2 linked regions of the Homo sapiens genome follow. The protein of the gene in region 1 interacts with the protein of each later gene in a biochemical or structural test. Each region holds a gene or a part of one and is shown in the gene's direction. Other genes may lie near its edges. The genes, in order: NEFM and DRD2.

Region 1 (8,120 bases):
CTACAGTCCAGCTCTCATGGCAAACAGGACCATGTTCTTTCCTCTAAAGATAGCACACTACTTATTCAGATATATTTACTTTACAAAACAGGGCATGGGATTATATAAACAGAAAGATCCTATTTATATTTAAGTTACAGAGAAAAAGACTAGAAGAAAATACTTAAATTATTGTCTCTCTCCATTTTGCAAATTTCTACACTCCATATATATATAAATTTTAACCAAAAAAGTGAGTTAAGTATTCTAAAATAGATGCTCTTCTTAATAAGCTAAGTGACAAGACAGAGCTATGACAGTGAGCCCATTTTCAAAGGATTATGAAAGAATATTGATTTTCAAATTTGCAGAGATTGAAAAAAAATCACCCAGTCCTGGGACAATGAGACTGAATTATTAGGTGGGGCTTCTTTGTGACTTTCTGTTCCCAGGTTTAGCTCTTTTCAGAAATTTGGTCCAAAGATCATTGATCTGCTCTAGTTTTACGAAGCTCATTTTAATTAAGAGTTTCTAATAAAAGAATTATGTCTCTTGCTAAGTCAGGCCTTGGTAAGCTTGGGATAAAATATGTCATAAATATTTCATAGCTGCACTGGTGCAGTTACGTGCAAGGCAGGGTTTTCAAAATTCAAGTGCATATCATCAACATCTGTTGCTGCTTTATAGGTAAAGCTAATGGGTTCAGTTAAAAACATGCTGAAAATTAATACAGGAGTACTCTTTTATTATGCATCTACTGAACTTTATTTTTAGAGTCACTTTTACCAAGGCTCTATTAAGTACTTTTTTAAAATTCTAAATCTTTCTCCCCTGGCTTTCACAGAAAGGATTCACAGTGGAGAGGTGAAAGCATTACACAGCAAAAAAATCAGCAAGCTATGTTAAAGCCAAAAGCTAAATTTTCCCCCACCACACACATGAAATTTCCAGATATAGAATTTTAAAACTGATTAATTTAACATTTGGAATATAATAAAGATTAAATGTTTTAAGTTTTGTAAATACTTCAATTAACTTCATCATAACAGTAACTGACAAATAGAAGGCAATATTCAAAGAATAAAATATTTGGCAAGGGAAACAAACACCATTTCAGTGGCCTAATGACAGAAAAGGAACACTGTGGTCTAGATGGATTTGTTTTGATCAAAGACAATAGGGACATACATATACATCCCAATTTCCCTGACAAGAAACAGTCTTTCTCCCCTGAGAATATTTTTATTTTGCTTTCAACTCTTGACAACAACAAAATCAAAAGTCAACACTGCTTTTAAAGTTTGACATCCTGAGGATCAAGTAGAAATATGTAATATAGCTTCCTTTTTCTTGTGTTCCTGCTTCGGCAGACTAAGTCCCTAGCTTCCTACATCAACAACCCCTTAAACAATTAGCAGAGGACAGGTTATAAATAATTATTATGAGTTCTAGAACCAGATCCCAGGCAAACGGATTAAGTTCAAGACACAATAGGTTGAAAGAAAGTACAGATCATCTCATCTTGGATGGATTCAGCCTACCAATTTGAAAGTGACGTTGTCCATCTGGAGTATCTTTCTTGCTATCCAGTTCCTACATCCCATCCTCCTTGCATTTTTTTATATCCAAAAATGCTATTTAAAAGAAGAAATGTAAGGAAATAGGGAAAGATGGGAGAAAATGCCTAACTCCTTATTTTTTATCTTTATTTTATGACCCAGTAAATATACCACCTTTGCAAATGATATTTTCCCAGTATTAGATGACACCCTACAAAACCTGACAGTGGCTATCATCTCTTAGCTGCAAAGTTAACATTTTCACTTTCCCTACTGAAGGAACATATAGATTGGAGCATGCCTTGTATTTCTCTATAAAGTGATTCAAAACAGACTGTAGCTTATGAAACAACAATTCAGAGATAATTTCATTTAAAATGTCTTACATCTAAATCATATGAGAAACTTTTCTATTTAGAATAAATTACAAAAGTATCGTAGTCAAACTTAATTCCATGAATGCAGTGTGGTTAATCCGGGTGAGTTGCCATGATTGTTTTCTCTCTTTTTAATATTTTGAGAAGATTTCATAGCCTTAGTGTTCTTAGGGTTTAAAAAAATGCAAAAGCATTTCTTTCTGTGAAAACTATTAAGATGGTAAATATTCTTCAAAACTATGAGACAAAAAGGGAAAAACATCTTTTATAGCTTTTTAAAAAAAGTTTTCATACTAAATTTACTGATGGGTATAACCTTCAAATCACCTTTAGGAAGAGTAGTTAAAGTGGAAGAGTTTAATATAAAAGAAAACATTTTGCTAAATGTGAAACTGGATCCATCATTTTTTAAGCCATGGGAACTGTTTTTTCTTAATAAAACAACTGTTTTAATTCTTTGCATTATCCTGTAGTGCCCAGATTGAACAATATATCATGTGACATTGAAGTTACAATTTTAAGTTATAGGCACTAGATGTAGCCTGAGTAACTGACTTATTTTGTTTGTACGCAACACTTTCCTCCTTCTGTAACCAGCTGGAAGCTGAACAATTTCTCAGCTACTTCAGATACAAGGCAAAACTGGGTAATTGTGAAGTTAGACATGTGTTTCCTTGTAAATGTCTCTCTGCAGAGTCATCTCGTTTCCAAAGCCCTAAAGAAAATTAACAGCAGAAGGCTGCCGGTTAACCATGTACTCTCATTGCAGAGTTTGCAGTGAATGTGCACCATGAAATTGCCAAGGATTTTTATATATTTCAATAAAAGCAGAAAGTAATAAGCAACAAAGGCAAAATTACTGCATAATTAGCATTTGGCCTTATCTAGATGGTATCCTGCTGAGTCCAGCCTGACATCCGCAATACTTTACAGAAGGCAGGGAATTTTCTTTCTCCTTGCCTTTATTTATCTACATAAAACCAGAAAATCCTGTTTTTACAGTATTCACAAGTCAGTCCCCTCATTCCATCATCTGTCTCTCTCAACAACTCAAGACATGGATGGGCTCTGCTTGCCTAAGGTCTCTCAGCAAACTAGAACATCCTTCTCCTACATGGCCTGCGATACTGCAGTTTCATATTAATAAACCAAAGTAACTCCCAAAATTAGCACCTCCTGTTTAAAACATTATTTCTATTTTAATACAGATGGGCCAAGGGAGCTGATAAAAATAAAAAATAAAACCTCTAGAAACCCACCCCTTTCCTGATTACTTACTGATGAATATGATCCTGTCTTTTAATAAAACAGGGACTTAAGGAAACATGCTGTGAAAAGAAGCTATTTCGGTCTGGAGTCCCTACTTTTTATAAGCAGTAGTTTCTTCTCACCCATAGCAAGCGTTGCACATTCAGTCACTTGTACCTGTGGCCCCAGCGCTGTTGTTAGTTCTGCAATCTCTTCTTCACTTTATCTTGTAGTATTCTGAACTTTTTTAACCTGAATTACCCCCAAAGCACTACCCAAAATAAAGGGACATTTTAACAGGAGTACACCAGACAGCAAGAAGTCTGTGTAGAGTTCTTGTTTGCATAAACATGTTTAATGATATAGAAAATCTATTCCAAATCAATCATTAAAATCTAAAGCGAAAAATATATTACATTTTAAATGAAGGGAAAACATCTGATTTTATTCAAGGTTGTGGTGACTCTGTTCCGCAACTTTTAAATCAATTTAAAGTTAATTCAGATGCCTTTTCAATCATTGCAGTTACACATAGGGAATACTGAACCGAAAGATGACAAGGCAATTGTCTGTGTCCAAACTTAAGAAAAACTATATTTCCCTGGACTTTTCATCCCAACAGATTTCAAATTCTCCTTTCCAAGGAGTATTTGACCTTCACATTTCAGGCCCTGTATCTCTTCATTTCCTATACCACCATATGTTAGAAAACTCAAACTGGGCTACAAGTATATATTTCTGTTAACTGACTTTAATGAATTTTGGTTGTTTTCAAAATCTGCGATCTGTCCATTGTGCCAACCCTGCATTGCAGGGAAGTCTTAGCCTGTGATTCCAGCTTCGCTCCTGCAAAGATAGTCACTACAGGCAGGTTTAAATTGTATTTACTCGGAGAGAAGAGGGGGAAGGGAACCCCCTGCCCCCTGCCAACCTGACAGGCCAGGCTGGGTGACAAGCCCCCCGGGTGGCTGCACCTCCCACTCGCCGACCTGGGCGCTGTCCTTGGTGCTGCCGGCGCCATAGCGAGCACAAGCGCCTTACCTTCTGCCCCTGCGGAAGCTGCGGACGTCCCCCAAACGTTAAAAACGCCATATCCCACTTTTTATACAAATAACTACCCCGGCCTGTTCTCTTTGTCCCCTTCCCGAAGCCTTCAGGCAGACCGTTCCGCAAAGTCTTTTTTTTTGTTTTGTTTTGTCTTCTAGACCCAGCTCCTCGGCGCTCATCTCCAGCTGCTTTAAGACAAGGGGTGGGGGAAGGGGAGGGAGGCAAGAAAAGATGAGGGTGGGGGAGGGGAAAAGAGGGAATGCAAGGGGAAGGAGGGAGGAGACGGGGAGAAGGAAAGATTGGAAGAAAAGGATCTCCGAGGAAGGGGCTGAGAGAAGGGCAGGGTGAACTGGACTAAAGGCCAGAGTAGGAAGGAGAAGAGGGGCCAAAAAAGAAGGGGATGAAATTAAGCACAGAAGATGGGTAAAGAAAAAAGTATCAGGGAAAGGGCAAAATAAGAGAAAGCCTTGAGGATAAGAGGGTAGAAGGCTAAAGAACAAGGGGACCACGGGGTCGGGGAAGCGCTGCCTGAACGGCGGGACAGTGACAAAGAAAGGGCGCTGGCGATATTCGCACCAAGGGTGCGAAACGCAATCGGGAGGTGAGAAATGGAAAGAAGGCGAATGCCCGGCTACAAGTAGCCTGGGACTGAAAGGGGACCTGGGGGAGGGGCTGGGCCCAGGGCAGAAAAGTCCAGGTTCCCATGCGGCCTGGGCCCACGTGGAGCGGGCGCTGAATCACCGTTCAGCCGCCCCCCTCCCCTCCTCCCCGACCGGTGCCCGCAGTCCCCGCCTCCTCGGCCGCCGCCTCCACGGGGCGGGGCCCTGGCCCGGGACCAGCGCCGCGGCTATAAATGGGCTGCGGCGAGGCCGGCAGAACGCTGTGACAGCCACACGCCCCAAGGCCTCCAAGATGAGCTACACGTTGGACTCGCTGGGCAACCCGTCCGCCTACCGGCGGGTAACCGAGACCCGCTCGAGCTTCAGCCGCGTCAGCGGCTCCCCGTCCAGTGGCTTCCGCTCGCAGTCGTGGTCCCGCGGCTCGCCCAGCACCGTGTCCTCCTCCTATAAGCGCAGCATGCTCGCCCCGCGCCTCGCTTACAGCTCGGCCATGCTCAGCTCCGCCGAGAGCAGCCTTGACTTCAGCCAGTCCTCGTCCCTGCTCAACGGCGGCTCCGGACCCGGCGGCGACTACAAGCTGTCCCGCTCCAACGAGAAGGAGCAGCTGCAGGGGCTGAACGACCGCTTTGCCGGCTACATAGAGAAGGTGCACTACCTGGAGCAGCAGAATAAGGAGATTGAGGCGGAGATCCAGGCGCTGCGGCAGAAGCAGGCCTCGCACGCCCAGCTGGGCGACGCGTACGACCAGGAGATCCGCGAGCTGCGCGCCACCCTGGAGATGGTGAACCACGAGAAGGCTCAGGTGCAGCTGGACTCGGACCACCTGGAGGAAGACATCCACCGGCTCAAGGAGCGCTTTGAGGAGGAGGCGCGGTTGCGCGACGACACTGAGGCGGCCATCCGCGCGCTGCGCAAAGACATCGAGGAGGCGTCGCTGGTCAAGGTGGAGCTGGACAAGAAGGTGCAGTCGCTGCAGGATGAGGTGGCCTTCCTGCGGAGCAACCACGAGGAGGAGGTGGCCGACCTTCTGGCCCAGATCCAGGCATCGCACATCACGGTGGAGCGCAAAGACTACCTGAAGACAGACATCTCGACGGCGCTGAAGGAAATCCGCTCCCAGCTCGAAAGCCACTCAGACCAGAATATGCACCAGGCCGAAGAGTGGTTCAAATGCCGCTACGCCAAGCTCACCGAGGCGGCCGAGCAGAACAAGGAGGCCATCCGCTCCGCCAAGGAAGAGATCGCCGAGTACCGGCGCCAGCTGCAGTCCAAGAGCATCGAGCTAGAGTCGGTGCGCGGCACCAAGGAGTCCCTGGAGCGGCAGCTCAGCGACATCGAGGAGCGCCACAACCACGACCTCAGCAGCTACCAGGTAGGAACCGCGGCTGCGCGGCCAGCCTGCGCCAGCGCCAGCGCCGCGCGCCCCCGACACTTGGGCTCGTGCCCAGGCGCCCTCTCCGCCGCGCTCCCTGGTGGCCGCTCGCTAGAGCACGCGCGCCGCAGACCTAGGGTATTTGCGGATCAGCGTCCTCGCCCATCTCATCCTCCACACTCCGCCCCCACCCACCTGCCCCAGCTGCTAAGGGTCTTGACCTTTTTCAGAAACGTGCATCTTTTCCAGTTCTAATTTTGCACGCTTGCACGTTTAAAGCAGGAGGGATGAATTCGGTAGTGGATAAATCAGCAACTTTAGGATAGCTTATGCAGAAACGCGTGTATTCTCTACTTTTCCGGCAGTGATCGGAAGAGCTCTCAAAATTGGCTTCAGCCCAAAGGGCTCAGATGGGAATGGCCAGGTCAGCCATGGAGTTTCCCCATGCATGTTTGTGTCCTGTTGAGACGTGTTCTAAGTCCACTGGTCTCCGTGCGTGATGTGCCCAGGAAGTGTCCTATTGTCTTACTGATCTTGTATGTTCATTTGAGAATCGCTTAGATTTAAAAGAAAAAGGGGGTGGGACGGGGGGCTGGGAGTCAGGTGTCAGCGAGGTTTGCAGAAGTGGAGGGAGACGGGAGGAGGCCAGGGGGAAGGGGTAGCAAGTGGTTTGCGAAGGAAGTTGCTGTTTGCAAGGATGAGTCTGGGGAGATTCTCTGTGTCTGTTTCAGGACACCATCCAGCAGCTGGAAAATGAGCTTCGGGGCACAAAGTGGGAAATGGCTCGTCATTTGCGCGAATACCAGGACCTCCTCAACGTCAAGATGGCTCTGGATATAGAAATCGCTGCGTACAGGTACGATGCTTACTACGTGCGTGGCCGGAACACTAACCGCAGTGCAGAGGCTGTTCCGGCAGAGCTTCCACCACTTAAGTTAAAGCAGGCAGGGTGCAGGCATCAACTCAGCACCTGGTTATCTTGCTTACTTAAAAAGAAATTATTCTAAAGAATTGCAAGTGTAGTTTTATCTCTTTTTATGCAGCTTTAAAAGAATGAATACTAGTAGAAACAAAAGGTTTTTGAATTACACAAAGGAGGTGCAGATTAATCTCAATGCACATGCTTAAACTTTTTATGGAAAAATGTTTTCAAATGCTGGAAGCATGAACAGAGTTTTGGTTTCTAATATTTCATCTAGTGGTTTCAGCTTTTCAAATGTATAATGTCAAGGACAAACACCAGGACGTTCTATTTCTCTGTTTCTCTGTTATATAGCTTACTATTGCCATCATCTGGCTGAGAATAGATATAGAATGATAGAATATAGATATAGTTCTTTTATATATGTAGATAATTTATATGTATTATATTTTATGCTAGACTGTAGTATAAATTATATCAATATATCATGTATGATATTAATCTAGATCTATAGATACACATATGTGCATATGCATATAAATCTAGATATATAGACACAAATATATATGATCGTTTTATAGATAGTGAGATAGGTTATAGGTCTATTAACTGAAGTGACCTTGCTGTTGACTAAGCGCAAAGGACAAAATCGTTGATTAAAATTTTTCTGCTACCAATAAGGTAGTTATAATATAACGAGAATAAATTGCATTTACAGAGCTATCTCTCTTTTCAGGAAAGCTGAATAACTACATTAAATAGACACTTTATGATAAAAATTATCAACAAATTTATAACTCGATACACCTGAAAATCTAAACGTTTAAGAAAGTGACTACTCTCAGAAAGGCTGTTTGGCTTTGGAGTTTGGGGGCGTTTTGTTTATGGCTTTTTGTTTTTTTGTTTTTGTTTTTGTTTTTTGCTATTTGGCCACTAACAAGTTTTTCAGCATATTCATGTTGTACCTAATGGATCTCTACTGCAGGGCCAAGACTT
Region 2 (7,269 bases), on another chromosome or scaffold:
TGTGTATATGTGCACATGAACATGGGATGGCGGAGGCTACTGGGCTTCCATCCACTCCTGACAATAGTATTTTTGTAATGAAGCTGCAGCCCTCAGGGCCTGCTAAACCCAGGTCAGGCCTTAGCCACCTGGAGCAGGAAAGCTAGAAGTGAATAGGAGGTAAGCTGACCACATGCCCATTTCTGTGGGAGGCAGAGTCAGGAGTGTCTCAGACAGAGGCAACACAAAGCCCCCGCCAGCGTGGAACTTCCTCTCATCAGGGAGGCAAGAGCGATGGCAGGTGTGCACCTCTGGAGATCGTAACAACAAAAGATACAGTGAAGCCTTGAAAATGTGTGGTTCGGTATCTATTATAAGCATCACAGGAATTCTAAGTGGGAATAACACTAAACATACTTGGATTAATGCACAAGGCCCTGAGATAGAGGACAGGCGTCTGGTAGACCTAGAAGGGCACGCAAACATATGAAACACATAGGAACACAAGTGAGTTCAACAGACAGAGCCAAGTTATCTTGCTGCAAACATTAAAAGGTGGCCAACCTCTCCCAATACACAGGTCAGACTAAAAAGATGGTTTACTCTTTTAAAAGTTTTCTTGTGTCATTCTTTCTGGATACATCGGCTTCACTTGTTATGCCCAGACATGGCAAAACTAATGACCAAGTAATGAGGGAATAGTAATGGAAAGACTTGGGAGCAGTCCATCATCACAGCTTAACTTTTTGCTCACAACCGTGTTTTTAATACTCTGGTATCTGCTGTGCGTTTGTGTATATCTAAGATGACCAGGCAGCCTTAAACATCTAGTTGCGTTCATATTCTCTGTAAAATCGCTCCTTGTTCCTGGAAGGACATGAATGGGCTCTTGTGGAATTATGGCCGGTGGGCCCGCTGACTCCCTGCCTGCCCGGGCTCTCCCTCCCCCAGACCAGAACGAGTGCATCATTGCCAACCCGGCCTTCGTGGTCTACTCCTCCATCGTCTCCTTCTACGTGCCCTTCATTGTCACCCTGCTGGTCTACATCAAGATCTACATTGTCCTCCGCAGACGCCGCAAGCGAGTCAACACCAAACGCAGCAGCCGAGCTTTCAGGGCCCACCTGAGGGCTCCACTAAAGGTCTCAAGACACCCCCCAACCAACTCCAAGGGTCCCCACCTAACCATTACCAAGAGGGCTCATCTTATGCTCAGGTGGGGGCTTGGGAAACCTCAGCAAGGGTTAGGTCTAGGCTAAAGGAATTCCCAGGAGCCGGGCAAGGGCAGATTTTGAAGGCATGGACCTCAGTGGAGCAATCTGAGTCTCCAGGAGAGGGAGGCAGGGTCCATGACACTAAATAACAAGGGGAAGTCTTTGCTTGGAGATCTTTGTGACTGAAGGCGGCAACTCTTGCTTGGTACCCCCGTGGGCTCCTCTCTTCCTCTTTTCTGGTTTCTCTGTCTCACTTTAGCTCCCTCTGACTCCTCCATCCTCTTTCCTTTACCTTCCGTACTCTCTGTCCTCCCCTCCAAACACACATCACTTTTCCTGACTTCCTCTCCACTATGTCTCTCCTGTGCTTCTCTTTCATTTCCCCCCTGATGTCTTGTGAATTCTCCCCTTCACTCAGTCCTTCACAAGGAAGACAGTGTGTGGGCACAGAAGGAACAAGAGCTCTTGGGCTAGACGCATCAGGTTCAGATCCTGTCACTGACACTTTTTTTGCTGAGTGACCTTAGGCAAGTTGCTTACCTTCTATGAGCCTGTTTCCTCATCTGTTAAATGGGAATCAAAATACCAGCCTCACAGGGTGGTCTTGAGGATTCCACGTGAGAAGGGACGTGAGTGTGCCTAGCACAGTGCCAGGCCCTTAGCAGGTGCTCCATAAAAAACCAGGTCCTTGTGTTCCTCGTCATACCCACCACTTTTTGTCTCATTCCAGCCTTCCCCCTTGCCCCAACTGCCTCCTCTGGCCCCCACCCTCCTGATCTCTGAGCCCTTCTGCCCAGTCTGAGTTCCATGGACTGCTGCACTTTGGGTTTCTGTCCCCCCTCCATCCCCACCACTTTGTGTGACCCATGTGCTGGCTCACTCCACAGGGCAACTGTACTCACCCCGAGGACATGAAACTCTGCACCGTTATCATGAAGTCTAATGGGAGTTTCCCAGTGAACAGGCGGAGAGTGGTAAGTGCTCAGGCCAGGGACCCAGAGCCAGGTCTTTCTGCCCCTAGGGAAGCCCACTGGCCATGGTTCTGAGACCTCAGAAGCTGGCCAATGGGAGAAGCACCCCAGAAACCCCCACCTTGCCTCAGCTGAAGGCAGACTCACCGTGCACACCTCCAAGCAGGCATGAAGTGAGACACCTCGGTTCTGCAAGGCATGGATGTGTACGAGAAAATGGTTGGCCATACCAACGTAATAAAAATGATAATAATGGCTATTCACATTTCTCAAACATCTACCATATCCCTATTATCTCATCAAATCCTCACCACGACCCCGGGAGGTAAGTCTCTTTGATCGAACCGATCTTCAGTTGACAGAAGAGGAAACAGGCTCAGAAAGATTAGGCAACTCACCCGTCTCAAGAGTTGGTGACACTAAGCCCAGACCTGTGTGACTCTGAAATCCACACCTGTGTTCTTTCCACTGACATGAGCTGCCTTATGGATGGGCAGGTTCTGGGGTAGGACGCAGCAGAGCAGCTGCGGGGACTGGTGGCGGAGCAGTTTGTGTACATAGAGCCCTCAGGTGCGGAAGCACAGCAGACCCCAGCCTCTGCCAGGTGGTAGCTGTACCAACATGCAAGCAGCAGGCATTCCATCCTCCAGAGGGATGGAGAACAGGGCCAGAGAACCCACAGAGGGCCGCATACAAAATCCAGGTCTGGTGTCCTGCCTTCACCTGCACTGCAAGGGCAGGACTCTAAGAAGCTGTTTATGAGGCAGGTGCCAAAACAGAGCCTCAGAGTCAGGGCCAAGGCAGCAGCCCAGTCATGCCACCTAGGCACATAGTGAGGCTGCACTTTAGAAGTTCAGACTAACACCTCCAAGGCCTCAAACAAGAGAACCTATGGAAGAACCCAGGAGGCCATGAGTGGATCCATGCCAGGGCTCTCTAGGTCACCCCAGCAGGGAAGATGTGGGGCCCCAGGGGTCAGCCTTTTGGCACCTAGATTAGTCTATCCAGGAGAATATGGAGCCCACGTGTGTACGCAGGTGCAGGTACCCATGAAGTGGGAGCACTGGGCCCCTTGTTTGACAGGGAGAACAGGGGTGGGCACCCTCTTTGCAGTCGGAACATGAGTTTCTGGAGGCAGGGCCAAACATCATCAGCTCTTGACCCCAGCAGCCACTGTGGCACCTGGCACTTTGCTAACAGTAAGTGTTGCTCAGGCCATGAGAGACAAGTCCCTGGTATTCAGCCCTGGCAGAACAGAAGTGGGGTATTGAGGCTGCATGAGGATTGCCATGGGAAAAAGGACAGGGGCAATCCTGCAGGGGCTGCCATGGGTCCTGGGTCCCATGCCTCAGTGACATCCTTGCCTCCCTGGCAGGGTGACCCTGTGGTGTTTGCAGGAGTCTTCAGAGGGGGAAAGGGAGGGGCCAGTGAGATGGGTGGCTGATGCCTGGGAACTTGTCCGGCTTTACCCAGAGCCCTCTGCCTCTGGTGCAGGAGGCTGCCCGGCGAGCCCAGGAGCTGGAGATGGAGATGCTCTCCAGCACCAGCCCACCCGAGAGGACCCGGTACAGCCCCATCCCACCCAGCCACCACCAGCTGACTCTCCCCGACCCGTCCCACCATGGTCTCCACAGCACTCCCGACAGCCCCGCCAAACCAGAGAAGAATGGGCATGCCAAAGACCACCCCAAGATTGCCAAGATCTTTGAGATCCAGACCATGCCCAATGGCAAAACCCGGACCTCCCTCAAGACCATGAGCCGTAGGAAGCTCTCCCAGCAGAAGGAGAAGAAAGCCACTCAGATGCTCGCCATTGTTCTCGGTGAGTCGGCCCTGGCTGCTGGCCACAGCCCGGTCTGTGAAAGGTCCCATTCCCTGCCATGTCCTTCCTAACCATGGCTGCAGGATCATGGGGCTAGCATTTCCTCAGGCACAGGCCAAGCCCATTGACATACAGACAGCCCTATTAGGTAGATTCTGTAATTGTGCTCACTTTACAGATGGGCAAACAGAGTTTTAGAGTGGTTATAAAACCTGACCAAGAGGACCCATGGTTTGAACTCAGGCAGTCTGACTCCAGAGTCTGGAAATTTGACTAGTCTATTATGCTGGCACCAGAACCTCATGGGCCTATGTGCCCAGGAAAGTCACTTTCTCTCTCTAGGCTCCTCATCTGTAGAGTAGGTTACTTCTCAGGGCTGTCATGGCAATCAGTTGGTGAAAGCATTTTCTAAACTACAAAGCACTATCCATATGTAAGTGTCACTATTATGGTTTTTATTACTATTGCTCTTTTTGAGGAATTGGGAAATTCAGTTCACTTGCACTCAAACAAGACTCCATGGGACCAGAGCTGTGAAAAATAAATGAGATGTTGGGGAGTGGCCCCCAATCTAAATGAAAAGCATCCCTGTCCATAAAGCAGGATTTTTCAATAGAAGTCTAGAAAACCACATAGTAAAGGTCAAAACCCAAAAGGTGGACTGATATGGGTGGCTGGGAAAAGGAGGGTCCCCTGTGACTCTGTCTTCCAGGAAGCACCTGAATCCCCTTTGACTGCCGGATGATCCTGGGGCGTGAGTGGGGCAGCTGTTACCTCCCTTCTTTTATGAATGAGAGCACTTGATCCCATGGGACTACTCACGATCATGGGACTGGGATATGGTAGGCTAGGATTGGAGCCAGGCCCTCTGCTGCAGTCCATAGGGGCTCAGCTCTGTGGCCCTACTCTTCCCAGACACCATTCAGTCTCCAGGGATGCCTCCTGTGCCTGTAGGGCATTCCATGTACACATTGCTTCCAGGATAAATATCACACCTGTGCAGGAGGTCCTGGAAAAAGTGCACCTGAGTTAGGTGAGCAGAGCAGGTAGGTGGCTGCCCTGGGTGAGAGGGCATGGTTCAAGGCAGGGACTAGCAAGGGTGTACCCACCAAGACTGGGGAAATTGGGGGAAGGCTAGAGCGAGATCATCTGGGGACCTGGATAGACCGGAGTTCAGCTCTCAGCCTCGCTGCTCAAGAGTGAATGACCTTGGGTATATTGCAGAGCTGTTGTGAGTGTTTTTCTTATGTACCTTATGAGGATGCTATAAGAACTAAGTGGCATGGGTCTATAGCCCTCAAAGATGACCTGGAAGTAGAGTAGATATTTCCATTTCTACTGGCTAACCTGGGTCAGAATGGTAACCTTTTGGATTTATTGTTAAACCATGTACCCTTTTCTAGGAGGTGGGAAAGGGACAAATGAGGGAAGTGAGGCTGAAGGAGCTGAAGGGATACTTCACTGCAAATGGGTGTCAGAGGCAGGTCTAGGATCCAAGACCTGGACTCCTCCTACAGTGCTTCTGTGGCTACAGCCCACCGTCTTGGCATACGAGCCAGGGCGCACTGGGTGTGGGTGTTCCCAGCCGTGCCTCCCCGGCTCTGGGGACCAGCCTGACCATGCCCTCTCCCCCAGGCGTGTTCATCATCTGCTGGCTGCCCTTCTTCATCACACACATCCTGAACATACACTGTGACTGCAACATCCCGCCTGTCCTGTACAGCGCCTTCACGTGGCTGGGCTATGTCAACAGCGCCGTGAACCCCATCATCTACACCACCTTCAACATTGAGTTCCGCAAGGCCTTCCTGAAGATCCTCCACTGCTGACTCTGCTGCCTGCCCGCACAGCAGCCTGCTTCCCACCTCCCTGCCCAGGCCGGCCAGCCTCACCCTTGCGAACCGTGAGCAGGAAGGCCTGGGTGGATCGGCCTCCTCTTCACCCCGGCAGGCCCTGCAGTGTTCGCTTGGCTCCATGCTCCTCACTGCCCGCACACCCTCACTCTGCCAGGGCAGTGCTAGTGAGCTGGGCATGGTACCAGCCCTGGGGCTGGGCCCCCCAGCTCAGGGGCAGCTCATAGAGTCCCCCCTCCCACCTCCAGTCCCCCTATCCTTGGCACCAAAGATGCAGCCGCCTTCCTTGACCTTCCTCTGGGGCTCTAGGGTTGCTGGAGCCTGAGTCAGGGCCCAGAGGCTGAGTTTTCTCTTTGTGGGGCTTGGCGTGGAGCAGGCGGTGGGGAGAGATGGACAGTTCACACCCTGCAAGGCCCACAGGAGGCAAGCAAGCTCTCTTGCCGAGGAGCCAGGCAACTTCAGTCCTGGGAGACCCATGTAAATACCAGACTGCAGGTTGGACCCCAGAGATTCCCAAGCCAAAAACCTTAGCTCCCTCCCGCACCCCGATGTGGACCTCTACTTTCCAGGCTAGTCCGGACCCACCTCACCCCGTTACAGCTCCCCAAGTGGTTTCCACATGCTCTGAGAAGAGGAGCCCTCATCTTGAAGGGCCCAGGAGGGTCTATGGGGAGAGGAACTCCTTGGCCTAGCCCACCCTGCTGCCTTCTGACGGCCCTGCAATGTATCCCTTCTCACAGCACATGCTGGCCAGCCTGGGGCCTGGCAGGGAGGTCAGGCCCTGGAACTCTATCTGGGCCTGGGCTAGGGGACATCAGAGGTTCTTTGAGGGACTGCCTCTGCCACACTCTGACGCAAAACCACTTTCCTTTTCTATTCCTTCTGGCCTTTCCTCTCTCCTGTTTCCCTTCCCTTCCACTGCCTCTGCCTTAGAGGAGCCCACGGCTAAGAGGCTGCTGAAAACCATCTGGCCTGGCCTGGCCCTGCCCTGAGGAAGGAGGGGAAGCTGCAGCTTGGGAGAGCCCCTGGGGCCTAGACTCTGTAACATCACTATCCATGCACCAAACTAATAAAACTTTGACGAGTCACCTTCCAGGACCCCTGGGTAGAAGGCAGCAGTGCCACTTCTGTGCTTGGCATTCAAGTATAGCAAGACCCCTGTGTCTGCAGGGTCTAACCCAAGGGAAGCCAGGTTGCCCCCACTGCTCCACCTCCCCTGTTGCAGCTCCTGCTTCCTCTGAAGGACTCATCCTTTGCCCTCTTACCCACCAGGGCAGAGAAGGCTCTGTGGAAAAGGTGGCCTTGGATGCACTGGCATTGCCTGTGTCTGCCTATGTCCCTTGCCCTGTCTTCTGTCCCATGTCAGGATCCCCTTCCTCTAGGGCAGGCTGGGAGAAGCAGGGAAGGCCCTGACCACTGCGGCCTGGACA

What was found.
Region 2: the proteins of NEFM (region 1) and DRD2 form a complex in vitro, tested with the Homo sapiens proteins (one study listed by BioGRID).

The regions. Positions count from the first base shown.
Region 1 is NC_000008.11:24,908,672-24,916,791, forward strand, and holds the start of NEFM (neurofilament medium polypeptide), read left to right. Parts: upstream 1-5,089; 5' UTR 5,090-5,122; coding exon 5,123-6,202; intron 6,203-6,315; exon of another isoform or gene 6,316-6,626; intron 6,627-6,933; coding exon 6,934-7,058; intron 7,059-8,120. UniProt on the Homo sapiens protein: Neurofilaments usually contain three intermediate filament proteins: NEFL, NEFM, and NEFH which are involved in the maintenance of neuronal caliber.
Region 2 is NC_000011.10:113,409,273-113,416,541, reverse strand, and holds the end of DRD2 (D(2) dopamine receptor), read left to right. Parts: intron 1-930; coding exon 931-1,121; intron 1,122-2,080; coding exon 2,081-2,167; intron 2,168-3,658; coding exon 3,659-3,986; intron 3,987-5,621; coding exon 5,622-5,815; 3' UTR 5,816-6,937; downstream 6,938-7,269. UniProt on the Homo sapiens protein: Dopamine receptor whose activity is mediated by G proteins which inhibit adenylyl cyclase. Positively regulates postnatal regression of retinal hyaloid vessels via suppression of VEGFR2/KDR activity, downstream of OPN5.